3 separate regions of the Homo sapiens genome follow, and all the other regions are linked to region 2. A link means that fine-mapping ties the variant in region 2 to the plasma level of a protein whose gene starts in the linked region. Region 2 holds a variant in brackets. A gene starts in each other region. All regions are shown on their reverse strands. Region 1 holds the start of CXCL11 (C-X-C motif chemokine ligand 11). Region 2 has its middle 14 kb from the start of ACHE. Region 3 holds the start of CCL28 (C-C motif chemokine ligand 28).

The links. PIP is the chance, under the fine-mapping model, that this variant and not a neighbour inherited with it causes the effect. Protein levels are from antibody-based Olink assays in UK Biobank. Linkage for the fine-mapping came from a reference panel and not from the study's own genotypes, which makes the PIPs less certain.
Region 1: CXCL11 starts here. The variant in region 2 is fine-mapped to the plasma level of the CXCL11 protein (UK Biobank, PIP 0.97).
Region 3: it holds the start of CCL28, and the variant in region 2 is fine-mapped to the plasma level of the CCL28 protein (UK Biobank, PIP above 0.99).

Annotation. Positions count from the first base shown.
Region 1 is chr4:76,029,159-76,039,234 of GRCh38, reverse strand. It overlaps CXCL11 (C-X-C motif chemokine ligand 11), which reads left to right and starts at 3,165. Exons shown (of 4, transcript NM_005409.5): 1 at 3,165-3,308; 2 at 3,893-4,019; 3 at 4,116-4,188; 4 at 4,419-5,553. The coding sequence starts at 3,248. The coding sequence ends at 4,442. It also overlaps a transcript of ART3 not described here and the pseudogene RPL36P8.
Region 2 is chr7:100,904,351-100,914,633 of GRCh38, reverse strand. It overlaps the pseudogene RN7SL549P. Among named protein-coding and RNA genes, the nearest start is that of ACHE, 14 kb to the right of the region's middle. The variant C/G (reference allele first, on the strand shown) is at 5,426.
Region 3 is chr5:43,406,401-43,416,683 of GRCh38, reverse strand. CCL28 (C-C motif chemokine ligand 28) reads left to right here and starts at 4,293. Exons shown (of 3, transcript NM_148672.3): 1 at 4,293-4,431. The coding sequence starts at 4,368.

The sequences.
Region 1 (10,076 bases), not on the chromosome of region 2:
CCAGCTACTTGGGAGGCTGAGGCAAGAAAATCGCTTGAACCCAGGAGGCGGAGGTTGCAGTAAGCCGAGATCATGCCACTGCACTCCAGCCTGGGTGGCACAGAGAGACTCCATCTCAAAAAAAAAAAAAAGTACTATTATTATCCCCAGTCTATAGATGAGAAAATAGCCTCAAAAAGTTGAGGTAACTTGTTCATAAATAACTGAATGTGGGCTGGGCACAGTGGCTCACGCCTGTAATCCCAGCACTTTGGGAGGCCAAGGCGGCAGGATCACCTGAGGTTAGGAGTTCAAGACCAGCTTGGCCAACATGGCTAAACACCATCTCTACTAAAACTATAAAAATTAGCCAGGCATGGAGGCACGCACCTGTAATCCCAGCTACTTGGGAGGCTGAGGCAGGCGAATCACTTGAATCCAGGAGGCAGAGGCTGTGGTGAGTCGAGATCACACCACTGCACTCCAGCCTGGGCTACAGAGCAAGAATCCATCTCAAAGATAAATAAATAAATAAATAAATAAATAAATAAATAAATAATCAAGGGTGGATTTGAACACAGGCTGACTCTAGAGCCTTCCCTATTAACAACTATGCTCTACTGTGTTTCTAATGCTGAGAAAATGAAAAGCAACATTAAAAAATAATAACAGATAAGGATTTATGAGCTCCAAGAACACATTCCTTTTACTTTACCCATATTCCTGAGGGAAAATTAGTCTTTCTTTACATATGTTAAATGAATTAATGGAAAAGAAGGAAAGAATATTCCAGCTACTTGGAAATTAATTAAAATACAGTAGCCCCCTCACCTTATCCTTGGGGGATATGTTCCAAGACCCCCAATGAGTGCCTGAAACTGCAGATAGTACTGAGCCCTGTATATATTGTATTTTTTCCTGTACATATATACCTATAAAAAAGTTTGATTTATAAATTAGCCACAGTAAGAGCATCAACATTAATATATAGAATAATTACAACAATATTCTGTAATAAAAGTTAAGTGACTGTGTAGTCTCTCTCTCTTCAAATATCTTATTGTACTATACTCACTCTTCTAGTGATGCTGTGAAATGATAAAATGTCTATGTGATGGGATGAAGTGATGGAGCAAGATGATGTGAGATTTCATCATGCTACTCAGAAAAGTGCACAATTTAAAACTTATGAATTATTTCTAGAATTTCTCATTTAATGGGGGACTACTGTAAAGACTTTCAAAGGTTTTAAAGACTAGTCATGGTTGTTAAAGAATTTAAATGCAGGATTATATCTAAATAAATATATAATTTCAAGATAAAATGCAAATGATAATTCTCAAAAAAAGAAGTTGAATAAGATAAAATAATAATCTAAAAGTAATAAACTGGCTATAAATTCCCCGATTATACCAACTTTTATTGGTAAAACTAGGAAATAGGAGAAAATTCTTGAAAGAAAGTTACAGTGATTTTCTCATGTTACAAAGACAGGAGCTAAAAAAATATTATTGATGGTTGATGTAAATAATTAGAAAAATTCAGGTAAAAATCTTTTTAAAGAATTTTAAGAATTAATATCAAAATGTAAAACAATGTATTCCTTTCAAATTACTTAAGGAAGGCCAAGCACCGTGGCTCATCCCAGTAATCCTAGCACTTTGGGAGACCAAGGCAGGAGGATTGCTTGAGGCCTGGAGTTCATGGCTGCAGTGAGCTATGATTGTGCCACTCGACTCCAGAATGGTGACAGAGTGAGACCCATCTCATTAAAAAAAACAAAAATGGCTTCAAAAAGTTAAATAAAATATATTTAAAGTTAGAAAGAAATCAAAGAAAACATAAAGAATCAGCAAGGAAGCATTTTAAAAATTACAGATTACCAGTTATACAGTAAATATATTTTATTAAGCTTACCCATTAGAAAGCTCCTTTGATATGATTTTCTTAAACATCTACAAGTGACACACTTAAAACAAAGATTTAGGAAGCTTAAGAGGAAAAGATAAAGACAAAAAAATAGGAATTACATCAAAGTAGAATCTCAGAGGTAAAACTATCACATGAGCAAAGAGGATCACTTTTTTTTATGATCCCTAATACAACTCATACAACTTCATGTACTAAGTAACAGTGCTAAAATATATATAAAGTAGCTTTCCACCATGGCCACCATTGGAGGGCAGCAGCCATGACACTGCACTACCCTATAGCTGTGGGCCTCAACAAGGGCCACAAGGTGACCAAGAATGTGAGCAAGCCCAGGCACAGCCACTGTGGGCGCCTGACCAAACTCACTAAATTTGTGTGGGACATGATCCCAGAGGTGTGTGGCTTCACCCCTAACGAGTGGCGTGGCATGGAGTTACTGAAGGTCTCCAAGGTCAAACAGGCCCTCAAATTCATCAAGAAAAGGGTAGGGACAAACATCTGCACCAAGAGAAGGCAGGAGGAGCTGAGCAACGTCCTGGCTGCCATGAGGAAAGCAGCTGCCAAGAAGGACTGAGCCCCCTGCCATCTGCCTATAATGAAAGCTTTGCAGAATAAAATAAATATAAAATAAAGTAATAAAATTAAATTAAATTTAAAAATAAAATAAAGCAAAACAAAATAAAATATATAAAGTAAAAATTGTTGAAAATGCAAAACAATATGGACATAAATACAGAAACACAGGGAAACTTCTTTAGGCACTCATTTACAGGTAAAAATATGAAATTGAATAAAGGTCATCTGGTGTCAAATAATATAGGCCTTATCTATTATAAGAGTTTGGACTGAAAAGCAAAAGTGAGATAATAAAAAAAAGCTTTTCAGAATATTATTTTGTATAGATATGTGAAGGATGAAGGGTGGGTGAAAGGACCAAAAACAGAAACACAGTCTTCCTGAATGAATGACAATCAGAATTCCGCTGCCCAAAGTAGTCCGACAATTAAATGGATTTCTAGGAAAAGCTACCTTAAGAAGGCTGGTTACCATCTGGGTTTTCACAGTGCTTTCACATTCTTATCACTTTCAACACTACTGCAAATAGGAAGGGACAGTAACATTTAGAAGAGAACAAAACAGAAACTCTTGGAAGCAGGAAAGGTGCATGACTCAAAGAGGGAAATTCCTGTGCCATAAAAGGATTGCTGGTGTATAAAATGCTCTATATATGCCAATTATCAATTTCCTTTCATGTTCAGCATTTCTACTCCTTCCAAGAAGAGCAGCAAAGCTGAAGTAGCAGCAGCAGCACCAGCAGCAACAGCAAAAAACAAACATGAGTGTGAAGGGCATGGCTATAGCCTTGGCTGTGATATTGTGTGCTACAGTTGTTCAAGGTATGCAGTAATTTTTATTTCTCAACCTATAAGTTCCTTTTCTAATGTTTCAAATGTCTTTTCTTCCACTTTTATCCTAAAAGACATGATAAAGTTTTATTTAATCTCACAGATTAGAAGTTACTACAGCTTTAGCACAGAAATGGTGGACATGTTTAAGATACTAGAGATGATTATTGAAACTAGAAATTATGAACTTCATGGAATTTTTGATTTGGCTAGAATATCTGGCAAAAGCCTTTAGCAACAGTTTTAAATGTCTGTTAAGAAGATTTTATATAGCGATCATGTTAACAAGCTTCCTGGGAAAATATTTGAGGATAAAATCAAGGGGGCAAAACAAGCTTCACCTCCAATAAACTTCCTTCATGCTTCCCATTTGTTAGCGATTTGCTTACTAATTTAATGAGAAAATAATCAACATCTTACTTAACTTTTCCCAGTAACAGTTGTGTTAAGTGCTATTTGACAAATTACTATCTTTACCCTTAATGAAAATTCTGCTCACGTTCACCACCAGCTATAAACCACAGCCATCTGTTGCAATCAGATGCATTACTAACTAATGCTATGATCTATTCTAGGCTTCCCCATGTTCAAAAGAGGACGCTGTCTTTGCATAGGCCCTGGGGTAAAAGCAGTGAAAGTGGCAGATATTGAGAAAGCCTCCATAATGTACCCAAGTAACAACTGTGACAAAATAGAAGTGATGTAAGTAATGAACTTGCTGAAGATGACAATGGTGCAGGCTTTTTTGTTTATGTATTTGCATCTAAACTTTAAGACTCTTGTATGTTCTTTTAACAGTATTACCCTGAAAGAAAATAAAGGACAACGATGCCTAAATCCCAAATCGAAGCAAGCAAGGCTTATAATCAAAGTAAGTTACCAAATTACTCCCATGTTATAATCTGTTTTATCCAAGACAGATCTTTTGAAAAAGAAAATAATGTGGACAACTACAGAAAGATTCTGCTATGATCCTGTGTGAAATATTCTGTTAAGGGGTCCTTGGTTGTAACAGCTTCCCCTTCTTACTACATGTTTTTAGATGTCCTGGGGGAAACAAGAACAGCCCAAGTAAATAAAACTCTTGTTTTCTTATTCCAGAAAGTTGAAAGAAAGAATTTTTAAAAATATCAAAACATATGAAGTCCTGGAAAAGAGCATCTGAAAAACCTAGAACAAGTTTAACTGTGACTACTGAAATGACAAGAATTCTACAGTAGGAAACTGAGACTTTTCTATGGTTTTGTGACTTTCAACTTTTGTACAGTTATGTGAAGGATGAAAGGTGGGTGAAAGGACCAAAAACAGAAATACAGTCTTCCTGAATGAATGACAATCAGAATTCCACTGCCCAAAGGAGTCCAACAATTAAATGGATTTCTAGGAAAAGCTACCTTAAGAAAGGCTGGTTACCATCGGAGTTTACAAAGTGCTTTCACGTTCTTACTTGTTGCATTATACATTCATGCATTTCTAGGCTAGAGAACCTTCTAGATTTGATGCTTACAACTATTCTGTTGTGACTATGAGAACATTTCTGTCTCTAGAAGTCATCTGTCTGTATTGATCTTTATGCTATATTACTATCTGTGGTTACGGTGGAGACATTGACATTATTACTGGAGTCAAGCCCTTATAAGTCAAAAGCATCTATGTGTCGTAAAACATTCCTCAAACATTTTTTCATGCAAATACACACTTCTTTCCCCAAACATCATGTAGCACATCAATATGTAGGGAGACATTCTTATGCATCATTTGGTTTGTTTTATAACCAATTCATTAAATGTAATTCATAAAATGTACTATGAAAAAAATTATACGCTATGGGATACTGGCAAAAGTGCACATATTTCATAACCAAATTAGTAGCACCAGTCTTAATTTGATGTTTTTCAACTTTTATTCATTGAGATGTTTTGAAGCAATTAGGATATGTGTGTTTACTGTACTTTTTGTTTTGATCCGTTTGTATAAATGATAGCAATATCTTGGACACATCTGAAATACAAAATGTTTTTGTCTACCAAAGAAAAATGTTGAAAAATAAGCAAATGTATACCTAGCAATCACTTTTACTTTTTGTAATTCTGTCTCTTAGAAAAATACATAATCTAATCAATTTCTTTGTTCATGCCTATATACTGTAAAATTTAGGTATACTCAAGACTAGTTTAAAGAATCAAAGTCATTTTTTTCTCTAATAAACTACCACAACCTTTCTTTTTTAAAAAAAGATCTATATACTTTCCAGGACATTTGAGATGCCTTTAACAATTTTGCCTTATATTTCAGAAACATACACCTATCCGTCATCATGAAAAACTGTTTAGAAATATATTTTAATGGGTAGGTGGGAAAGACAGTTGTTTCTTTTGTCGGCCTTGGGGGGTCTTGATAGTCCAAACCCCCTTCTTACTTGGAGAAAATCCCTTATGTGAGTGTTGGTGGGAGGCCAAAAGAGAGAAGCCAAAGACAGGAGATCCTCTCCTGTAGCCACAACAAGGACTCAGCCATGCTGTTTCTACCCTAGACTTTGAACTCCAGCTGGCATCACAAAGATACTATTAGTAAGAAAATTATTTCAAGCCTGGCAGCAGCAGGAGAAACAATGAAAGTCTTACAGTAGTGTCTTCCCAATGTGTGTTCCTGTAGCATGACTCTGGCTAGTCCTTCCTATCACCTAGTTCCCTTAGGTCTTTGTCCATTTTCCAAGACTTATTCTCCATTGTCCTGTGGATTCTTCAACCTCCAACTAAATTCTTTTTCTCCTTAAGATAGCCAGAGTTGGTTTCTCTGCATGTAACCAAAAGCCTTGACTGATAGCAGTACTCTCTATATAGGCACCCATACATTTGAAAAATAAAAATATTTATTATAGGATTATAATCAGATATATCTATATTGCATTATTATATAGGTTATAGATACAATATAGATTTATAATAAATTGTTATATAAATCTATATAAATATCTATATAGAGATGGGACTTCCATATAAATTCCCTGGATAGTTTTAAGACCTGAATCTGGCTGGGTGCGATGGCTCACATCTGTAATCCCAGCACTTTGGGAGGCCGAAGCGGGCGGATCACCTGAGGTCAGGAGTTCAAGACCAGCATGGCTAACATGGTGAAACCCCATTTCTACTTAAAATGCAAAAAATTAGCCGAGGCTGCTGGCACGTGCCTGTAATCCCAGCTACTCAGGAAGCTGAGGCAGGAGAATCGCTTGAACCCGGGAGGCAGAGGTTGCAGTGAGCTGAGATCATGCCATTGCATTCCAGCTTGGGCAACAAGAGTGAAACTGCACCTCAAAAAAAAAAAAAAAAAAAAGACTTGAATCTAATCTTTGACTACTTACAGTGATTTTTTTTTTAAGTCTCTTTAAAAATAAAAATTCACATAGTCAGCTGGGCATGGTGGCTCACACCTATAATCTGAGCACTTTGGGAGACCAACATAGGTGAATGGCTTAAGCCCAGGAGTTCAAGACTAGCTTGGGCAACATAGCGAAAATTCATCTCTATAAAAAATAGGAAAATTAGCTGGGTATGGTGGCACATGCCTGTAACCTCAGCTACTTGGGAAGCTGAGGTGGATGGATCACTTGGGTCTGGGAGGTTGAGGCTGCAGTCAGCTGTGATCACACCACTGCACTCCAGCCTGGGCAAAAGCCTGCCTCAAAAAAAAAAAAAATTCACAGAGTTAAGGCTGCATGATAAATTGGTATTTGTAAGAAGTATATTAAATATTATAGGCCAGTACATTATTACTGAGAAGAAAACATACACCTAAAGTTCTTCATAGCAAAATAAATATATGAAATATTAATAATTAACATATTTGAGCCAAGATCCTCCCCACCTTGGTACCTTTGCACATACTATTCTCTCTGCCCATTTCTTCACTAAGCTAATGCCTACTAATTGCTTAGGTCTCAGCTTAAATGACTTTTTCTCCAAGAAGCCTTTGAAACCACCACTTCAGCTTTAACTAGATTAGGTGTCCTATTTATTTATTTCCATAACACTCTCTATTTTTCCATCATACTACTTACTGCAATTGTAATTAATGAATTATTCCTGTGCCTAATATCTGCTCTCTCATAAGTGTAAAAGAAAGCTGCTGTAGCCCAGGCCAACAGTACAGTTTCTGGTGCATATCAGACCCTATTGAATGGCAATATAAACTAAGGGAAAAGGAATTTACAGCAGAGGAATGACACAAGGGAATGTACAGTAGTAGGAAGTATAAAGTGATTTTTAGGAATCATAATTAGATTCGTTTGGTTGGAAGGATGAAGGACATGAAACTGTAAATAACCTTGAATTTTACTCTGTACAAAATGGGGATTCAATAAATGTTTGTGAAGAAGAGAGTGACCCTATCAAAGTCATTGGAAAATATTCTGGGAATTGCATGAATGGTTGATTGAAAGTGGGAAAGAGTGGAGGAGGAAAATCAGTTGGGATTTGCTGCAATAGCTGCAATATCTCAGGTCTGTATTTCCAAAACTTCAAGGCATTCTCATATCATCTTTACAATTTTTTTTTAACATTTCTCTGTTTGATCTTCATTATATTTTTAGAAACTCTGTATACCACTTTATTTTACGTACATTTACATGAAAAGTAAACTTTCACTACTGTACATGTAAAATCGGTAATACATGCCATGGAAATAAAATGTAATGATAAAACAAAATACAATGAAAAAATACTAATATTCCCCCTGATTTAATTAATCAGAGGGATTGAAGTTAAGAAGAGAATAATTCACTGATACTAAACGTTATTATCAATGTACATGGTAGTGTCCCACACTTTGGGAAACACTGGTGTGAAAAGTAATGGGGCTGGCTCTGCAATAAGTTAAACATAATTATAGTAATTATATATTACTATATAATCCAGCAATTCCATTCCTAGGTATATACCCAAAAGAACTGAAACAGCTCTTTAAACAAAAACTGGTACACAAATGTTCATAGCAGCATTATACACAACAGCCAGAAAGCAGAAACAACCCAAATATCCATCAACAAGTGAATGGATAAAATGTGGTATACACACACAATAGATTATTCGGCCATAAAAAGGAATGAAGTACTGATACATGCTACAACATGGATGAACCTTGAAAATATGCTAAGTAAAAAAAGCCAGACACAAGGGACCACATATTGTATGATTCCATTTTATAGGAAATATCTAGAGTAGGCAAAACCATAAAAACAAAAAGCAAATTAGCTGACTGGGGTTTGGGGGAGGTGTTAATGAGGAGTAACTACTTAATGAGTATGGAGTTTCTGGGTGATGAAAATGTTCTGGAACTAAATTATGGTGATGGCTTCACAGCACTGTGAAAGTACTTAACTCCACTGAATTGTACTCTTTTAAATGGTTAAAATGGTAAATTTTATGTTATTTGTATTTTACTATCATAAAAAGAAGAAGGGCTACACTAAGGTGGTATTGGTAAGAGTAGAAATATAATGACAAGTACACTGTACAAAAATAATCAAGACAGTGATAGATTGGATGTGAAAGTTGAAGCTGAGGCCAGACACGGTGGCTCACGCCTGTAATCCCAGCACTTTGGGAGGCCGAGGCGGGTGGATCACGAGGTCAGCAGTTCAAGACCAGCCTGGCCAACATGGTGAAACCCCGTCTCTACCAAAGATACAAAAAATTAGCTGGGCATGGTGGTGCATGCCTGTAATCCCAGCTACTCAGGAGGCTGAGGCAGGAGAATCGCTTGAACCCGGGAGGTGGAGGTTGCAGTGAGCCGAGATCGCGTCATTGCACTCCAGCCTGGGCTACATAGAGCGAGACTCCATCTCAGAAAAAGAAAGTTGAAGATGCAAAAAAGAAACAAAGAACATGTTAAGGATTTGAGTCTGAATTTAAAGCAGAGAAGAGACAAGGAAAAAAGGCTGAACTTCTGAGGTCTGAAAGAATAGTTCTGTCACTAACAGAAATAGGGATATGAGGGGGAAGATGTAGTTTAGCAGAAAAAACTGCAGATTCGATTTTAAATACATGGAACTTAAGATGCCAAACACTCACAGTGACTTAAAATTTCAGGACTGTTTCCTCTAATTAGCCAAGAAGAGCTTTCAAACAAATGGAGTAGTTTTGGATAATGCTATTAGAAAAGGAAAGATTATACTTAATTATTTTTGGCTACTGAGTACAGGACCTAATATGCCCACATGGAATTAATATACCTCTTTGTATCTATTTCTGAAAAGATTTTCATAGCCAACAATTATAAATCTTTATGATATGGTCAGCACATTCTGTGGATTATAAGTAGTACACACACAAAAAAAACTGTTAGGGTTTTTTTTGGAGAAGGGGTGAATGAGGCAATTTTAGTTGCTTCTTCTTGCCTTGTCTGCAAATTTTATTAACCAGACACTGGTAATGAAATTGAGCAAGTCTGAGATTATCACATAACACTGAAACCATAGTTTCACTTAAGTACCTAAGAAGAATACGTCCTAAAAATCCTGGCACCATAAGTACAGATGTATTCATAGTTCCTTAGTGCTGCTCAATAAACTGCTACTAAATTGGAAATGCCCTAACGTGAATTATAGACTCTATATAATAAATCCTGACTTAGCATTCTTCTTCAAATTGTTCACAAAGACAAACTGTCAATAAGAAGTTGAAGAAAACTGAATGATAATCTAAAATATGGAATAACAGGCACTACTGAACTATATCATATCTCAAGATTCCTCTTCTC
Region 2 (10,283 bases):
AGCCTGCTGGGTGAGAGAGGCGCCTTTAAGTTCATATTCTGGCTACCAGCTTGGCCCATGTGGATGTGGTGATCTACTTCTAAAGTCTAGCCAGCAACCTTTGGTCTGTTGTTCCTAATACCACTGACCTAGGCGTGAGACCTTGTGCATATTCCAACGGGTACCGTTCGAATGGTGTGGATATTAAAGGCTATCAGAGAAGTCTGGGCTACGTGCCATGCTGAGTAAGGCCTTGGATGAGCGTAAACAGTTGAAGCATATGAAGGCACCCAGTTGACCTGAAATCCCATGCACAGCCACCCACTCCACCGCCTAGGGTGGCGCCAAGGGAACAGATCAACTCTGGACCTAGAGCAGAGTGTAATGATGCTGTCACACACTGGCATGGCTTCCAGATTGGCTTGCACATGGCCAGAGTTTCTTTTAGGGATGGATGTGAGCAGAGAGCAAGCAGCGTACTAAGATCATAGCCTATGCAGGCAGGGAGTTCAGAAAGAAAAGTAAAAATGTCCTATGTCCATTTGTGTCTTAGGAGAGGTGAATCCATGGGCGTGACCTAGGTTTACCACCCAAGGAGTGAAGGTTTAGCGTAAGGGGTGAAGTCATCTCTAGTGTCAAGGCCCTGGGTTGGGGTGATGTCGTCTGAGATGATGGCATCTACAGCAGTGAGATTTTGGGGTGATGTTGTCTGGCATCTGGTATGTAGGATGGGGCTCCTTCTTTTTTTTTTTTTTTTTTTTGGAGGCAGGGTCTCCCTCTGTCACCCAGGCTGAAGTGCAGTGGCACTATCATGGTTCACTGTAGCCTCAACCTCCAGGGGTCAAGCAATCCTCCTGCCTCAGTCTCCAGAGTAGCTGGGACAACAGCCATTCGCCACCATGCCTGGCTAACTTTTTTTTTAATTTTTTTTGTAGAGGCAGGGGTCTCATTATGTTGCCCAGGCTGGTCTCAAACTCCTGGCCTAAAGCAATCCTCCCACCTTGGCCTCCCACAGTGCTGGTATTACAGGCGTGAGCCACCACGCCTGGCCTAGTGCATTTTTTGAAAGGTTAAAGTTAGAACCTACATTGTAGAGGCACAAAACCCAGTGTCCTTTTTTATATTTTTGTTATATGAATTTTGAATTTCCAGTTGAATCAAACTATGGAAAATATATTGTATACTAAATTTATCTGTTTATATTTATATTAAAATATTATATATGTATCATATGTATATTATATATGTATAATACATATAATGTATTACATATAATATACATATGTACATATAAGGTATACATATCTACATATATATTGTTACATATAATATACATATGTACATATAAGGTATACATATCTACATATATAATATATTGTATATAATATATACAATATATTTAACCATATATATTGTACCTCTAGGTACAAGGAGAAAATAAAAGGTGACTAGATAAATTATATATACATATATAATGTGTATAGAATATACATGTAGTATACCTATATGGTACATATAATAATATATAATGTATTATATATTAATATATATACACACATATGTGTACATATGTATATATTATACAGTAATATATGTATTATATCACATATATTATGTATGTATATTTTATATGTATATATAATTTAGTTAGTCACCTTTTATTTTCTCCCTGTACCTACAGGTTTGCTCATTAATCAATAAGTAATCTAGAGATAACATTATGTTTGCTAGACCTGGTGTTTGCTCAATACTTAAAGTTTAAAGTTCTCCTTTTTTTCTTGGACTTCTAACTTCCTGAAGCAGCAGTCTCTCTCTCTCTCTCTTTTTTTTTTTTTTTCTTGAGACAGAGTTTCACTCTTGCTGCCCAGCCTGGTGTGCAATGGCGATTACCTTCCACCACCATGCCCAGCTAATTTTTGTATTTTTAGTAGAGACGGGGTTTCACCATGTTGGTCAGGCTGGTCTCGAACTCCTGACCTCATGATCTGCCCACCTCAGCCTCCCAATGCTGGGATTACAGGCGTGAGCCACTGTGCCCGGCTTCTTTTTTTTCTTTTTTTTTCTTCCTTTACGTTTTGAGCCACCTGAAGCCTGAGTTCTTTGTCTCTGGCTGACAAGAGGGAAAGTGGGAAGAGGAAAGGCGCCCTGTGTCTCCAACCAGCAGCCTCTCTGGGGACGCCCCCCACCGCGAGATAATCAGTACCTTTTTTCCTTCTTTTTTTAAGTAAAATGTGTAGAACTACTTGTAATTCTAGGTGGCTAAAATATTTTTTTTCTTTCCTCCCTCTCTCTTTGGACGTTTACCTGACAAGCTCATGGTGGCACTGAGTAGCGTCTGTTGAGAGCAGCGAACAGTCTTTGTTCCCATGTCTTGGTCCTACTGATTATCTTTTTTTTTTTCCTTTTGGAAACAGTCTCGCTCTGTCGCCCAGGCTGGAGTGCAGTGGCACAATCTCAGCTCACTGCAACCTCCGCCTCCCGGGTTCAAGCAATTCTCCTGCCTCAGCCTCCCAAGTAGCTGGGATTACAGGCACCCACCACCACACCCAGCTAATTTTTTGTATTTTCAGTAGAGACCAGGGTTCACCATGTTGGCCAGGCTGGTCTCAAACTTCTGACCTCAGGTGATCCACCTGCCTCAGCCTCCCAAAGTGCTGGGATTACAGGCATGAGCCACCGTGCCCCGCCATCTCTTTTTTTTTTTTTTTTTTTTTTGAGACAGGGTCTCATTTTGTTACCCAGGTTGGAATGCAGTTGTGTGATCACATCTCACTGCAGCCTCAATCTTCCGGGTTCAAGCAATCCTCCTGTCTCAGCCTCCTGGGTAGCTGGGATTACAAGCATGCACCACCACACCCGGCTAATTTTTTTTATTTTTCTGTACAGAGTTTCACCATGTTGCCCAAACTGGTCTCACACTCCTGGGCTCAAGCAATCCTCCAGCCTCAGCTTCCCAGAGGGCTGGGATTACAGGCATGAGCTGCCTCGCCCAGCCTGATTATCTTGATCTAGGTATTTACTTAAGAGAAATGAACATGTATACACACACAAGTTTTGAGTGTACTAATTATAATAGCTAAAAATTAAGAAGGGAGGTTATCAGATAGTGAAGGGATAAATTTTGGTATATCCATACAATGGAATCCTCTTTGGCAATAAGAAGGAATGAAATATATGTGAACTGACTTGGAAGAATTGCAACAACATTAGGATAGTGAAAAAAGTCAAATAGTAGACAATATGACTATTCCATTTATATAAAATTCTAGAAGAGGCCAGCTGGGCGCGGGTGGGAGAGGTGCTTCTAAATTCTCACGCCAGTGAGACTCATGCCTGTAATCCCAGCACTTTGGGGACCGAGGGGGGCAGATCATTTGAGGTCAGGAGTTTGAGACCATCCTGGCCAACATGGTGAAACCCCATCTCTACTAAAAATACAAAAATTAGCCGGGCATGGTGCTGCACACCTGTAATCCCAGCTACTCGGGATGCTGAGGCAGGAGAATCACTTGACTCCCAGGAGGCGGAGGTTGCAGTGAGCCAACATCATGCCACTGCTCTCCAGCCTGGGCAACAGAGCAAGACTCTGTCTCAGAAAAAAAAAAAAAGGAAGAACCTCGTGGAGGTAGAGTAGACTGACAGTTATCAGAGTGTAGGGAGGGGGCAGTGAAGAGAGGTTGGTTGATAGCTACAAAAATACAATTAGATAGAAGAAATAGGCCGGGCACAGTGGCTCATGCCTGTAATCATAGCACTTTGGGAGGCCGAGGCGGGTGGATCACCTGAAGTCAGGAATTCAAGACCAGCCTGGCCCACATGGTGAAACCTCATCTCTACTAAAATTACAAAAATTAGCCGGGTGTGGTGGCATGTGCCTGTAATCCCAGCTATTCAGGAGGCTGAGGCAGGAGAATCGCTTGAGCTCAAGAGGCGGAGGTTGCAGTGAGCCAAGACTGCGTCATTGCACTTCAGCCTGGGTGACAGAGTGAGACTCCGCCTAAAAAAAAAAAAAAAAAAAAAAAAAGGAAATTGAAAAACAGGAAGCAAAAAACAAAGTCATCCACAATCACCAGCATTTTACAGCTTGACATTCCTTCTAGGGTCCTGGGTGTAGGCAGAACATCCAATCTCATAGGACTGAGATCACACAATACGTATTATGCTTTTTCACGCATCATGAATATTTACCCATTCAAAACCTAAAGCTATGTGAGCATTTTGGTAACCAAGAATACACATCACCAACTCAATCTGTTAAGGAAAAAAAATGTAATCCTGCTTTTCTTGAGACAAAAATTTCATAGAAGACAAAAGTGGCAATAGGCATCTAGATAAAAAGCATTGGCAGAGTTCTGATTAAAAGACTGCATTCCCTTAATGCTCAATTTAAAATAAAAACGTAGACCAGACACAGTGGCTCACTTCTGTAATCCCAGCACTTTGGGAGGCTGAGGCGGGCAGATTGCTTGAGCTCACGAGTTCGAGACCAGCCTGGGCAACATAGCAAGACCCCTTCTCTACAAAAAATGCAAAAATTAGCCCAGCGGGGTGGCACACACCTGTAGTCCCAGCTACTGGGGAGGCTGAGGTGGGAGGCTCACTTGAGCCCAGGAGTTTGAGGCTGCAGTGAGCTATGATTATGCCACTGTACTACAGCCTGGGTGACAGAGCAAGACCCTGTCCCTTAAAAAGAAAAAAATAGATTTGGGGAAAAGTAGATCTTTATAGAGCCGAACACCTTTTTATTTATTTATTTATTTATTTATTTATTTATTTTGAGACAGAGTCTCGCTGTGTTGCCCAGGCTGGAGGGCAGTGGTGCGATCTCGGCTCACTGCAACCTCTACCTCCTAGATTCAAGCAATTCTCCTGCCTCAGTCTCCCAAATAGCTGGGATTACAGGCGCCCGCCACCAGGCCCAGATAATTTTTTGTATTTTTTAGTAGAGACAGGGTTTTGCCATGTTGGCCAGGCTGGTCTTGAACTCCTAACCTCAGGTGATCCACCCACCTCGGCCTCTCAAAGTACTGGGATTACAGGCATGAGCCACCACACCCAGCCTTTTTTTTGAGACAGAGTCTCACTCTGTCACCCAGGCTGGAGTGCAGTGGTGCGATCTTGGCTCACTACAGCCTCCACCTCCCAGGTTCAAGTGATTCTCCTGCCTCAGCCTCTTGAGCAGCTGGGATTACAGGCACCTGCCATCATGCCCGGCTAATTTTTGTATTTTTAGTAGAGACGGGGTTTGGTCATGTTGGCCAGGCTGGTCTCACACTCCTGACCTCAGGTGATCCACACACCTCGGCCTCCCAAATGCTGGATTACAGGCATGAGTCACCACGCCTGGCCTTAAATTCTTACTTAAATTTATTAAACTTATTCTTATTTAAATTCTTTTATTCCTCAATTCCTTTCTATAAATTTTCATTATTTTACTTTGAAATAT[C/G]TGCCAGGACTTTCAAGAATCATAATTTTGGCAACCCATATGCCAGCCTTATGTGTCTCACAATTAAAGCACAATGTTTTGAGCATTGAAAAGAACCAATATGTTGATTCACACTCACAGTTGCAAAACAAACGTGTTAGGCCATTCTTGCATTGCTATAAATGCCTAAGACTGGGTGATTTATAAAGAAAAAAAGTTTATTTGGCTCACGGTTCTGCAGGCTGTACAGGAAGCACGGTGCCAGCATTTGCTTCTGGTGAGGACCTCAGGAAGCTTCCACTTACAGGGGAAGTTGAAGGGGAGCTGGCATGTCACAGGGCAAGAGAGAGAGCAAGAGAGAGTGCGGGAGGGAGGTGCCACACTCTTAAACAACCAGATCCCACTCACTATTGCAGAAACAGCACCAAGGGGTTGGCACTGAACCATTCATGAGAGATCCACCCCCATGAGCCAAATACCTCCAACCAGGGCTCATCTCCAACACTGGGGATTACATCTCGACGTGCAATCTGGAAAGGACAAACATCCAAACTATATCAACAAATGAAGGCTGGAGAAATCCAAGGACTGAAGGACATCCTGGTTATAATTCCTACATTTAAGTCACATTGAGATGTGACATAGTATTGTACAACAGAATTTTTAAATCTTATTTGCCATGCCTTAGAATCTTTTTCTTTTGAGACGGAGTCTCGCTCTATCGCCCAGGCTGGAGTGCAGTGGCACAATCTCGGCTCACTGCAACCTCTGCCACCCAGGTTCAAGCAATTTTCCTGTGTCAGCCTCCCAAATAGCTGGGATTACCAGTGCCCACCACAATGCCCAGCTAATTTTTATAATTTCAGTAGAGACAGGGTTTCACCATGTTGGCCAGGCTGGTCTCAAAATCCTGGCCTCAAGTGATCTGCCCACCTCAGCCTCCCAAAGTGCTGGGATTACAGATGTGAGCCACCTCACTCAGCCAGAATCCCTTCCAAATTAAAAATCAAACAGAAACCCCACAGAATCACATTTGTTTGGCATTGCTCTAGTAATATGTGCATCTTGGGTGCAAGCGTCTAAATTGCTAAACCTGCATCTGCAGTTTTACATTTTAAGATGCTTCCGGCCAGGCGTGGTGGCTCACGCCTGTAATCCCAGCACTTTGGGAAGCCGAGGCAGGTGGATCACTTCAGGTCAGGAGTTCGAGACTAGCCTGACCAACATAGTGAAACCCCATCTCTACTAAAAAATACAAAATTAGCCAGGTGTGGTGGCGCATGCCTGTAATCCCAGCTACTCAGGAGGCTGAGGCAGGAGAATTGCTTGAACCCGGGAGGCAGAGATTGTAGTGAGCTGAGATTGCACCATGGCACTCCATCCTGGGCAACAGGAGCAAAACTCCGTCTCAAACAAACAAAACAAACAGAAAAAAGATGCTTCCGGCTGGGTGCCGTGGCTCACACCTGTAATCCCAACACGGTGGGAGGCTGAGGCGGGAGGATCACCTGAGGTCAGGAGTTCAAGATCAGCCTGACCAACATGGCAAAACCCGATCTCTACTAAAAATACAAAAATTAGCTGGGTGTGGTGGCGGGTGCCTGTAATCCCAGCTACTTGGGAGGCTGAGGTAGGAGAATTGCTTGAACCGGGAGATGGAGGTTGCAGTGAGCTGAGATCGTGCCACTGCACTCCAGCCTGGGAGACAGTGTGAGACTCCATCTAAAAAAAAAAAGATGCTTCCATCCACTGTTCATCTCAGATTAAATGAAGACCAAGGCTAGGCACAGTGGTTCACGCCTGTAATCCCAGCACTTTGGGAGGCCCAGGTGGGTGGATCACTTGAGGTCAGGAGTTCAAGACCAGCCTGGCAAACATGGCGAACCCCCTCTCTACGAAAAACACAAAAATTAGCCGGGCGTGGTGGTGGGTGCCTGTAGTCCCAGCTACTTGAGAGGCTGAGGTAGGAGAATCACTTGAACCTGGGTGGTGGAGGCTGCAGTGAGCCAAGTGAGCCGAGATCACACCACTGCACTCCAGCCTGGGCGACAGAGCAAGACTCTGTCTCAAAAAAGTAAAAATTTTTAATATAAATAATGTGATACTTATTAACCCAGTGATTGGGACAAATCCAAATTGAGGGACATTCTACAAAGTAACTGGCCAGTGGTCTTCAAACGTGTCAAGGTCATGAAAGACAAAGAATGAGGAAGTGTCCAAAACACAGGGCACTAGTCGGGCATGGTTGCTCACGCCTGTAATCCTAGCACTTTGGGAGGCTAAGGTGGACAGATTACCTGAGGTCAGGAGTTCAAGACCAGCCTGGCCAACATGGTAAAACCCCATCTCTGCTAAATACAAAAATTAGCCAGTTGTGGTGGCAGACGCCTATAATCCCAGCTACTCAGAAGGCTGAGGCAGGAGAATCACTTGAACCCGGGAGGCGGAGGTTACAGTGAGCCAAGATCGCGCCACTGCACTCCAGCCTGGTTGCCAAAGCAAGACTCCATCTCAAAAAAAAAAAAAAAGAAAATAGAAATAATGAAAAGAATACAGATAAGGCCTCCAGGATACAGCAAAAGCAATGCTTAGAGGACAATGTATAGCATTAAAGTAATTAGGTCAATAAATAAGAATGAAAATAAATAAACAGCCAAGTGTGGTGGCGCACCTACAGACCCAGCTACCGAGGTGGGAGGATCACTTGAGCCCAGGAATTCTGAGCTATAGTGCACTATGCCAATCCAGTGTCTGCACTGAGTTTGGCATCAATGTAGGGACCTCCTGGGAGCGGGGCACCACCAGATTGTCTAAGGACGGGTGAACCTGCCCAGGTCAGAAGCAAAGCAGGTCAAAACTCCCTGCAGATCAGTAGTAGGATTGTACCTGTAAATAGCCACTGAACTCCAGTCTGGGCAACATAGCAAGAGCCCCTCTCTAAAAAATAAATAAATAAATAAAATTAATTAGAAATCCAATTCCAGAAGTTGTAAAACAAACAATAAAATAAACCTATAAACCTGAGAGAGCACATAGACGTTAATAAAGATAAGAGCGGAACTTAATAAACCGGAAAACTGGAAAACACATGAAAAGATGCTCAAATTTCCTCATAATAGAAAGTAGGCCAGGTGCGGTGGCTCATGCCTGTAATCCTAGCACTTTGGGAGGCCAAAGTGAGTGGATCACCTGAGGTCAGGAGTTCAAGACCAGACTGGCCAACATGACAAAACCCCGTCTCTACTAAAAATACAAAAATTTGCTGGACATGATGGCACATGCCTGTAATCTCAGCTACTCGGGAGACTGACACAAGAGAATCAGTTGAACCCGGGAGGCAGCGATTGCAGTGGGCAAAGATTACACTGAGCCGAGATAGCACCACTGCACTCCAGCCTGGGTGACAGGGCAAGACTCTGTCTCAAAAGAAATAGGAAAAATTAAGCTAATTAAACCCTTAATGCTTACTGAATTAAATATATTAATTTAAAAATTAATTAATTTTTAATTTTTAAAAAAATAAAGTAACTGGCCTGGTGCAGTGGCTCACGCCTGTAATCCCAGCACTTTGGGAGACCAAGGCAGGCAGATCACGAGGTCAGGAGTTCAAGACCAGCCTAGCCAACATGGTGAAACCCCGTCTCTACTAAAAATACAAAAATGAGCTGCGCATGGTGGCGCGCGTCTGTAATCCCAGCTACTCAGGAGCGCGCTTGAACCTGGGAGGCGGAGGTTGCAGTGAGCCAAGATTGTGCCACTGCACTCCAGCCTGGGTGACAGAGCAAGACTCTGTCTCAAAAATAAATAATAAATAAATAAAGTAAAGCTGTACTGAAATACCATTCACCTCTTAAATGGGACAATTTTTTTTGTTTTGTTTTTGGAGTTTGTTGAGACAGGTTCTCACTCTCTCATGCAGGCTGGAGTACAGTAGCATGATCACAGATCACTGCAGCCTCAAACTCCTGGGCTCAAGCGATCCTCCCACCTCAGCCTCCCAAGCAGCTGTGACTACAGGCACAAGCCAGCACACTCAGCAATTTTTTATTTTTTGGAGAGCTGGGAGTCTCACTATGTTGCTCATGCTGGTCTTGAACTCCTGGGCTCAAGCGATCCTCCCACCTCAGCCTCCCAAAGTGCTGGGATTACAGGCATAAGCCACCACATCCAGCCAATTTTATTTTACTTTTAAATATACTATGTTGGCAAAACTATAGGCAACCAATAACTAGTGACCCAGTAATACATGTTGAGGAATTTATCCCAGGGATATACTTGCAACACTGCAAAATTATTTGTGCACTAAGTTTGTAATAGCAAGTAACTGAAAGCAACTTAAATGCTCATCAGTAGGGGACAAATTAAATTATGTTACTTTCAACTGGGCAAGGTGGCTCATGCCTGTAATCCCAGCACTTTGGGAGGCCAAGGCGTGCAGATCACCTGAGGTCGGGAGCTCGAGACCAGCCTGACCAACATGGAGAAACCCCGTCTCTACTAAAAATAAAAAATTAGCCGAGAGTGGTGGCACATGCCTGTAATCCCAGCTACTCAGGAGGCTGAGGCAGGAGACTCGCTTGAACCTGGGAGGCGCAGGTTGTGGTGAACTGAGATCGCACCATCGCACTCCAGCCTGGGCAACAAGAGCAAAACTCCGTTTCCAAATAAATAAATAAATAAATAAAATTATGTTACTTTCATGCAATATAAAGTATGCAGCTTTTCATTAAACAGGCAAAAAATAAAGAATGAGGGCCAGGTGTGGTGGCTTATGCCTGTAATCCTAGCACTTTGGGAAGCCAAGGCAGGTGGATCACTTGAGGTCAGGAGTTCAAGACCAGCCTGGCCAATATGCAGAAACCCTGCCTCTACTAAAAAT
Region 3 (10,283 bases), not on the chromosome of region 2:
CTCCCACCTCAGCCTCTCAAGTAACTGAGACTACAGGCGCATGCCAGTGCCTGGCTAATTTTTAAAAAAATTTTTAGTATAGCTGAGGTGTTGCTATGTTGGTCAAGCTGGTCTCAAACTCCTGGGCTCAAGCAATCCTTCCACCTTGGTCTCCCATAGTGTTGGGATTACAGATATGAGTCACCACACCCAGCCTCCTGACTCTTATCTTCAGAGCACACGGCTTTGGTCCAGAGGGGCTCCTGTGGTTATGGCTGGTGTGTGTAATTTCACAGGTCTTTGTCACCTCCACAGGTTGGTTCTCTGTCCTCCTTTATCAAGACCTGTGGTAAGGTCCCTTTGCTTAGTGGAAAGGCTGGAATGCTGCTGTGGGTCTTCTCATTCAAGAGGTCACTATCTTTGCAAGTCTGTTGCTCTCCAAAGCTCCCATTCCTTATTATAACTCTGGTTCTTGATAGTGAATTGGAGCTTGGTTAAATGTAACTTGATAGCTGGGGTAAATTTGGACACCTGCTCTTGATCTTCAAAAGCAGCAACACCCAATGCAAATATGTGATCTACCCATGTGATTTGAAATATTCTGGGTTTCAATTACATATGTAATTGTTTTAGTCTGTTTTATGCTGCTATAACAGAATATCTCTGTTTGAGGAAAAAAACTCTCGAACTGTTTTTCCTCTGCTCTCATACCACAAAAATCATCAACACAGAAGACTTCTATAACCAAATATGTAGGGGGTAAATTGGTGCATACACCAAGCAGCGGACACCAGCTAGGTGTCCTCCAATTCAGTTCTGACACTATCTACCAAGAGATAGTGCCAGAACCAGAGGTTGAGGGCTCAGTCCCATGAGATCACCCCCTACTTCCCACCAGTCACAAGTCCAGACCTCCAGAACTTCTGAACAGCTGGCTCCAAGTTGGGGTTCCCACAACCTCTCTATGGGTTTGATTAATTGGCTGGAGTATGGGGGAAATTCAGCCAGATATCGGGCGAAATTCACCCCCAATATTTCACGTAGGTTCTTTTCTATATTCCCTAAGTGTTGGCCAGTCTGAGAAATAAAGGGACAGAGTACAAAAGAGAGAAATTTTGAAGCTGGGTGTCCAGGGGAGACATCACATGTTGGCAGGTTCTGTGATGCCCCCTGAGCCGTAAAACCAGCAAGTTTTTATTGGTGATTTTCAAAAGGGGAGGGAGTGTATGAATAGGGTGTTGGTCACAGAGATCACGTGCTTCATAAGGTAATAGAATATCACAAGACAAATGGAGGCAGGGCAAGATCACAGGATCACAGGACCGGGGCAAAATTAAAATTGCTAATGAAGTTTTGGGCATGCATTGTCATTGATAGCATCTTATCAGGAGACAGGGTTTGAGAGCAGACAACCAGTCTGACCAAAATTTATTAGGCAGGAATTTCCTCATCCTAATAAGCCTGGGAGCACTATGGGAGACTGGGGCTTATTTCATCCCTACAGCTTCGACCATAAAAGATGGCCACCCCCTGAAGTGGCCATTTCAGAGGCCTACCCTCACTGACACATTCTCTTTCTCAGGGATGTTCCTTGCTGAGAAAAATAATTCAGCGATATTTCTCCCATTTGCTTTTGAAAGAAGAGAAATATGGCTCTGTTCCGCCCGGCTCACCGGCAGTCAGAGTTTAAGGTTATCTCTCTTGTTCCCTGAACATTGCTGTTATCCTGTTCTTTTTTCCAGGTGCCCAGATTTCATATCGTTCAAACACACATACTCTACAAACAATTTGTGCAGTTAACGCAATCATCACAGGGTCCTGAGGTGACATATATCCTCCTCAGCTTATGAAGATGATGGGATTAAGAGATTAAAGACAGGCATAGGAAATCACAAGGATATTGATTGGGGAAGTGATAAGGGTCCATGAAATCTTCACAATTTATGTTCAGAGATTGCAGTAAAGACAGGCGTAAGAAATTATAAAAGTATTAATTTGGGGAACTAATAAATGTCCATGAAATCTTCACAATTTATGTTCTTCTGCCATGGCTTCAGCCGGTTGGTCCCTCCATTCGGGGTTCCTGACTTCCTGCAACACTGGAGTGGCTCACAGAACTCAGGGAAATACTTACATTTAACGGTTTATTATAAGAGACAGTACAGAAGATACAGATGAAGGCCAGACATAGTGGCTCATGCCCGTAATCCCAGCACTTTGGGAGGCCAAGGCAGGAGGATCGCTTGAGGCCAAGGTATGGGGGAAGGGATGCAGAGCTTCCATGCCTTCCCTGGGCACGCCACCCTCTAAGAACCTCCACATGTTCAGCTATCCAGAAGCTCTCCAAACTCTGCCCTTTTGGGGTTTTACAAAGGCTTCATTACATAGGCATGATTAACAACCATGTAGAAATGTGATTAGACAAAAAGCACATAATCTAAACCCAGCAAGTCCTGCCTGTTCAGGCTTTTCTTGGCCTGTGTAGCATTCCTTCCTCTAGAGTATGGGACAGAACCCTTTCTGGAATGAGGATCTTATGACCCACAATCAGATTAGAGTCCTGCCTTGGGCAGGTGAAAGAAAAACAGAAGGTCAGAGAGAGATTCCGTTTCCTGAGGCCTGTTCCTGAAGCCTAAAGTGCCCCAACATTATAATATAAAAAAAAGACTGGGCTGGGCACAGTGGCTCATGTCTGTAATCCCAGCACTTTGGGAGGCCAAGGCGGGTGGATCACAAGGTCAGGAGTTCAAGACCAGCATCTTGCCAAGATGGTGAAACTCACTCCAGCCTGGGCAACAAAGCGAGACTCTGTCTCAAAAAAAAAACAAACAAACAAACAACAAAAAAAAACTGTAACAAGGGTTATGGGAGTTATAAGCCAGGAACCATGGATAAAAGCCAATATATATATCATAACACCACAACCCGAGACTGAGCAATTTATAAATAACAGAAATGTATTCTCTTACAATTATGGAGGCTGGGAAGTCCAAGATCAAGGCTCCAGTGATTTCAGTTTCTATTTCCAAGATGATGCCACTTTGCTGCATCTTTTGGAGAGAAGGAGCATTGTGTACTCACCTGGCAGAAGAGCAGAAGGTACCAACCCATTCCCACAAGCCCTTTTTATAGTAGCATTCATCCATTCATGAGGGTGGAGCCATCATAACCTAAACATTGTCCATTAGGCCCTATCTCCCAGCACTATTAGGGATTAATTTTCAACATGAGCTTTGGAGAAGAAAAAAATATTCAAACCACAGCAGTAATTTGAAAACATAAAAAGAAATGGGTGAAATTAATTTTAATAATATATTTTATTTAACCCAAAAAGTCCAAAATACTATCATGTAATCAATAAACAGTATAAACATTATTAACAAGATATTTTATATTTTTTTCTGTACCCAGTCTTTGAAATCCAGTGTGAATTTTATACCCATAGTACATCTGAGTTTGGACTACTCATATTTCAAGTGCTCAAGAGCCACATGTGGGCTAGCGGCTACCACATAGGACAACACAGTTCTAGAGGAAGCATGGCATGACTTTGGAGGTCATCTAGTCTGACTTGTTATTTACAGCAAAGTTAAGTACGTTGCCTGAGGTTATACAACTTATTAGTAGATGAGGAACAATTAGAATCCAATTATCTTCATGCTACCCCATGCTTTTATTCACAAAGCTGATTGGCAGCAAAGCTGCACTAGCGCTCATGCCTCTTCACACCTGCTCTTGGGCTCTTTTCTACAAGGCATTGCCCCCCTTCCTGTCTTTCTCCTAAATAAGCTATTGTAAAAAGCTTCACTGGAAACAATTTGGCTGTGAACCAAGACTAAAGTGGGGTTTAATACTTCCATATCTTTCCACAAAGATACATTTTTTATGACTTGTCACCCTTGTCCCCAGAAACTCATGGTTTCCATAAGCTACTTAAAAACTGATTATGCAATGGGTCTCAACATAAGTGTCCATCAGAATCACCTATAGAGCTTTTACAAAATTCAAATGACTGGTCTCCTACCTGGGAGTTCTGGTTTACAAATCAGGGAAAGGGGAGAGTCATTTAGATTGATTTTTTTTAATGTTCCCCAAATGATTCTGATGCACACCCCACCTCACAGTGACCCTGCCAGCTGCCAGATCTCCATTGACATCCCCTGACCCCCAGGCAGGATGAACACAAGTTAGGAGCTTAATAAGTCGAGGAGGAGCCTGGTCTTAAGGAAAGAAACATGAGAAATAGATACCCTGAACACCTCCCAGGGCGGGGCCACCTGGCTTACTTTTCCTCTGCACTTTCTCTGTGCCCAAGGACACCTTTAGCCTCATTTCCTGATCGAACAGCCTCACTTGTGTTGCTGTCAGTGCCAGTAGGGCAGGCAGGAATGCAGCAGAGAGGACTCGCCATCGTGGCCTTGGCTGTCTGTGCGGCCCTACATGCCTCAGAAGGTGAGTGGGGGCACTGGACACTTAGGCCTTCACTGGAAAGGGGGGTATCTCCCAAATCTGTGCTGGAAGGATTGAGGTGGGGCAAGAATATCTATCTCTTCAAGCAGGAATTTCCAATTGATTTCTGATTACCTACAAGAGAATGACATAGCTTTAAATTCTAGATCTCCCAGAAGTTTCAGGAAGGAACCTCATTCTAACAGGCATACTACAAATTTTTGCCACCTGGAGGATGAGGTCCTTCCATGTAGGTACAACTTCGAGCTATGTTTCCTTTTCTGAAGACAGTATCTTAGAAAATCCCCAGCTAGAGGCTGGAGTAAAGCCCCTACTATTCATCTGTCTTCCTCCACACCCCAACCTGCTAAACGGTCTGAACACAACTGTGCACATTCCTGGAGGGAAATACAGACTTGGCCAGCTGCGTTCAAATTAGGTAAGTTGTAAATTTCCTGAGCAAAGTCAGCTCTATGGATACAGAAAACTGAAACTTCAGTCTGACCTTTAAAAAGGGAGGGCAGAGCTGAGCACAGTGGTGCATGCCTGTATTCCCACCTACTTGGGAGGCTACGGCTGGAGGATAGCTTCAGGCCAGGAATTCAAGATTGCAGTGAGCTATGATCACACTGTGAATTGCCACTGCACTCTGAATTGCCACTGCACTCCAGCTTGGGCAACATAGTAAAACCCCATCTGTTAAAAACAAAAAGAGGGGAGGGGAGGGGAAAGAGAAGGAAAGGAAGAAAGGAAAGGAAAGAAAGAAAAAGAAGAAAAGCAGGATGAGGGAGATTGAACCATACAAATTATGTCAAAGAGAATTTAAATCGTGAGTTGCTAGCATGTATTTGGAGATTGTAACTGCATTTGAACTAGAGGGAATCTCTTCTAAAGTAGCACTCACTACTATATTCAGGAAACCCTAAGTGTCAGTACTTAATACTTGACCAATGACTCTTTTCCATTGTCATCTTTTCTTTAAGCTTTATCCTGAACAGATTCTCTAAGTCTAGAGCAGAGGTGGAATATAAGTCTTTGGTCTGCTTTTTAAAAATCTGAGCCAACATTTTAAAACTGAAAGCTTTCTCATGTACATACTCATACATACACACATACAAATTGGATTTTAAAGCTTCTCTTGAGAAATCAGATGTGGCAACAATGATTCCACCATACCATGGCAAGAACTGGCTAAAGCAGATGAGCCTCTGAAGTTTGCTGTATTAACTGCCTGGTCCCTGCAGGCATTTGCTTAGGGACTCCCAATATAGTCCGTCAATGTACTGGGCTTATACAAATAAGCAACAGAAAAAACCTGGACAATCTCTTCTCAATTTCTACTAATCTATCTATCTTATCAATATAAAGACAAAAATTTGTCACTTTATGTTTCTGTAACATTTCTCAGAAAAATTCACCATTGAGATTTGGGGACTCATTTTCACTATTTCTGAAAGGCCTACCTGCTAAGGCTTCACTCCTAGTTCTGGTAATTCCACCAACTCAAATTTTTTACATAAAACTTTGAAATGTGTACCTCCATCCAGCTTCCTGACCTACTCCCACCTGTCCCCACAGCGGCAGCTCTCCTACAGGAAAGGAGGGAGGGAACAGCAGGTCGAGGAGGCAGAGGGTAATGAGGAAGGCTCTGCCATACCCAGGACCCACCTTCACATGGGACTGAGTCCTGGTAGAGACGGTGGGGTGGAACGGCAAAATGCAGAGGTGTGTGAAAAGGTACGGCTGCTGGTGATAATAAGGAAGGGAGCCGAGAGACCCAGCAATAGCCTTTTGGGTTAGTCTCGATGCTTTACCTAAGGCAGTTTAGGCCACAGGAAAATCACATTGCCTGAGAAGCTCCAAACTTCTGTCATTTAAAAATAAGTGATACTGGGTAAAAATACACAAGTAGGCCTGAGAACAGTCGTGGAATAGAGGGGCAACGCCACAGCTATTCTTAACAAACTTCCACTCAAGTGTCCATGTAAGCCAGGTGCCCTGTGGGAGGCACTTAAGTGATTCTGGCTCCAGGGAGGGGGTGGAAAACCAAGTGGGGAGGGAGGAAGGTAGAGAACACTCAACAACTCAACAGTGCAGAGAAGAGGACAGGTGGCCTTGGCAAGGGGAATAGGAAAAAGGCCTGTGCCAGTTTGGAACTTTGGGAAATATATTTTGTTTCCTTGAGGCAGAAAGCTGTTCCCTTATCTTAATGGTGTCTTAAATGGCTATCTTGTTGTGATGGCTCAATAACTGGCATTCCCTAAGTGTTTTGCATAAATCAGGAAGCAGGTGACTTTATCTATAATTAAAAGCCTTGGATTCTGCCCAAAGGTAGGGCACACTCCACCTCTGCTGACGTGGCTGCTGGCTCCCAGAACTCAATACTGAATCCATAAACATGTCTATCATCCTGTTTCGGTGGCCCTGAGCCTGATTATTTAAACCCACAATCTAGGACTTTGTGGGCCTGGCTGTTTTATTGTACATTAAGATTAAGGCTCACTTGTGCCCAGCAGATTCAAGTTAGGAGGTTTTGCTGCAGTGAGTCCCAAATTGCCTTCCCACTGACAACCTTCTTTCTCAGAGTACAATGGCTACTGAATCACACCAATACTTGCTAGAGATTTGCTGCTTGCATCCTAAAACGTTTACCTTTTGTTTTAATCATAAGACTCTGGCTAGGGAAGGTTACCACGAATATACATTTGTGACTCAATGTTGTTCTGCACAATTGGGACTCCAATTGTGGTCCCTAAGAGGTCTGACATAGGTGGGACTACAGGTGCATGCCACCACACCTAGCTAATTTTTTGTTTGTTTGTTTTTGGAGATGGAGTTTGTTGCTCTTGTCGCCCAGGCTGGAGTGCAATGGTGCAATCTCGGCTCACTGCAACCTCCGCCTCCTGGGTTCAAGCAATTCTCCTGCCTCAGCCTCCTGAGTAGCTGGGATTAGAAGCGTGCACCACCACACCCAGCTAATTTTTGTATTTTTAGTAGAGACGGGGTTTCACCATGTTGGCCAGGCTGGTCTCAAACTCCTGACCTCAGGTGATACACCCACCTCGGCCTCACAAAGTGCTGAGATTACAGGTGTGAGCCACCATGCCCAGGCACACCTGGCTAATTAAAAAAATTTTTCTTGTAGAGATAGAGTCTCACTATGTTGCCCAGACTGGTCTTGAACTCCTGGCCTCAAGCAAGTCTCCTGCCTTGGCCTCGCTGCCTGTAATCCCAGCAATTGGGAGAATGAGGCAGAAAGATTGCTTGAGCCCAGGAGTTCGAGGCTGCAGTGAGCCATGATCGCACCACTGCACTTCAGCCTGGGTGAAAGAGTGAGACTCTCATTTCAAAAAAAAAAAAAAGTAAAAAATTACCAAAAAAATAAAATTACCAAAAATGTCACAAAAATTAAAGAATTTATCCTAATATTATGAAAGTTACAAATACTTAGTGTATTTTCAAATATAAAAATTTAAAGAATTAAAAAAAGGAAAGTCCCTCTTCATCATTCCTTTAATCCCTCTCCCCTCTCCAGAGGGTTCTGCATATCCTTCCAGAATTTCCTCTATGCATTTAGCAATGTGAACCCACACATACATCCACACCAATTTTTTTTTATTATACTTAAAGGTCTAGGGTACATGTGCACAATGTGCAGGTTTGTTACATATGTATACATGTGCCATGTAGGTGTGCTGCACCCATTAACTCATCATTTACAATAAGTATATCTCCTAACGCTATCCCTCCCCGCTCCCCCCACCTTACGACAGGCCCTGGTGTGTGATGTTCCCCACCCTGGGTCCAAGTGTTCTCACTGTTCAATTCCCACCTATGAATGAGAACATGCGGTGTTTGGTTTTCTGTCCTTGCAATAGTTTGCTCAGAATGATGGTTTCCAGCATCATCCATGTCCCTACAAAGGACATGAACTCATCCTTTTTTATGGCTGCCTAGTATTCCATGGTGTATATGTGCCACATTTTCTTAATCCAGTCTATCATTGATGGACATGTGGGTTGGTTCCAAGTCTTTGCTATTGTGAATAGTGCTGCAATAAACATACATGTGCATGTGTCTTTATAGCAGCATGATTTATAATCCTTTGGGTAAATGCCCAGTAATGGGATGGCTGGTCAAATAGTATTTCTAGTTCTAGATCCTTGAGAAATCACCACACTGTCTTCCACAATTGTTGAACTAGTTTAGAGTCCCACTAACAGTGTAAAAGTGTTCCTATTTCTCCACATCCTCTCCAGCACCTGTTGTTTCCTGACTTTTGAATGATTGCCATTCTAACTGGTGTGAGATGGTATCTCATTGTGGTTTTGATTTGCATTTCTCTGATGGCCAGTGATGATGAGCATTTTTTCATGGTCTGTTGGCTGCATAAATGTCTTCTTTTCAGAAATGTCTGTTCATATCCTTCACCCACTTTTTGATGGGGTTGATTTTTTCTTGTAAATTTGTTTAAGTTCTTTGTAGATTCTGGATATTAGCCCTTTGTCAGATGGATAGATTGTAAAAATTTTTCTCCCATTCTGTAGGTTGCCTGTTCACTCTGATGGTATTTTCTTTTGCTGTGCACAAGTTCTTTGGTTTAATTAGATCCCATTTGTCAATTTTGGCTATTGTTGCCATTGCTTTTGGTGTTTTAGTCATGAAGTCCTTGCCCATGCCTATGGCATGTATGGTATTGCATAGGCTTTCTTCTAGGGTTTTCATGGTTTTTGGTCTAACACTTAAGTCTTTAATCCATCTTGAATTAATTTTTGTATAAGGTGTAAGGAAGGGATCCAGTTTCAGCTTTCTACATATGGCTAGCCAGTTTTCCCAGCACCATTTATTAAATAGGGAATCCTTTCCCCATTTCTTATTTTTGTCAGGTTTGTCAAAGATCAGATGGTTGTAGATGTGTGGTATTATTTCCGAGGACTCTGTTCTGTTCCATTGGCCTATATCTCTGTTTTGGTACTAGTACCATGCTGTTTTGGCTACTGTAGCCTTGTAGTATAGTTTGAAGTCAGGTAGTGTGATGCCTCCAGCTTTGTTCTGTTTTGCTTAGGATTGTCTTGGCAACGTGGGCTCCTTTTTGGTTCCATATGAAGTTTAAAGTAGATTTTTCCAATTCTGTGAAGAAAGTCACTGGTAGCTTCATGGGGATGGCACTGAATCTATAAATTACCTTGGGCAGTATGGCCATTTTCATGATATTGATTCTTCATATCCATGAGCATGGAATGTTCTTCCATTTCTTTGTATCCTCTTTTATTTCATTGAGCAGTGGTTTGTAGTTCTCTTTGAAGAGGTCCTTCACATCCCTTGTAAGTTGGATTTCAAGGTATTTTGTTCTCTTTGAGGCAATTGTGAATGGGAGTTCACTCATGATTTGGCTCTCTGTTTGTCTGTTATTGGTGTATAGGAATGCTTGTGATTTTTGCACATTGATTTTGTATCCTGAGACTGCTGAAGTTGCTTATCAGCTTAAGGAGATTTGGGGCTGAGACAATGGGGTTTTCTAAATATACAATCATGTCGTCTGCAGACAGGGACATTTTGACTTCCTCTTTTCCTAATTGAATATCCTTTCTTTCTCCTGCCTAATTGCCCTGGCCAGAACTTCCAACACTATGATGAATAGGAAGGTGAGAGAGGGCATCCCTGTCTTGTGCCAGTTTTCAAAGGGAATGCTTCCAGTTTTTGCCCATTCCGTATGATATTGGCTGTGGGTTTGTCATAAATAGCTCTGATTATTTGGAGATACGTCCCATCAATACCTAATTTATTGAGAGTTTTTAGCATGAAGAGTTGTTGAATTTTGTCAAAGGCCTTTTCTGCATCTATTGAGATAATCA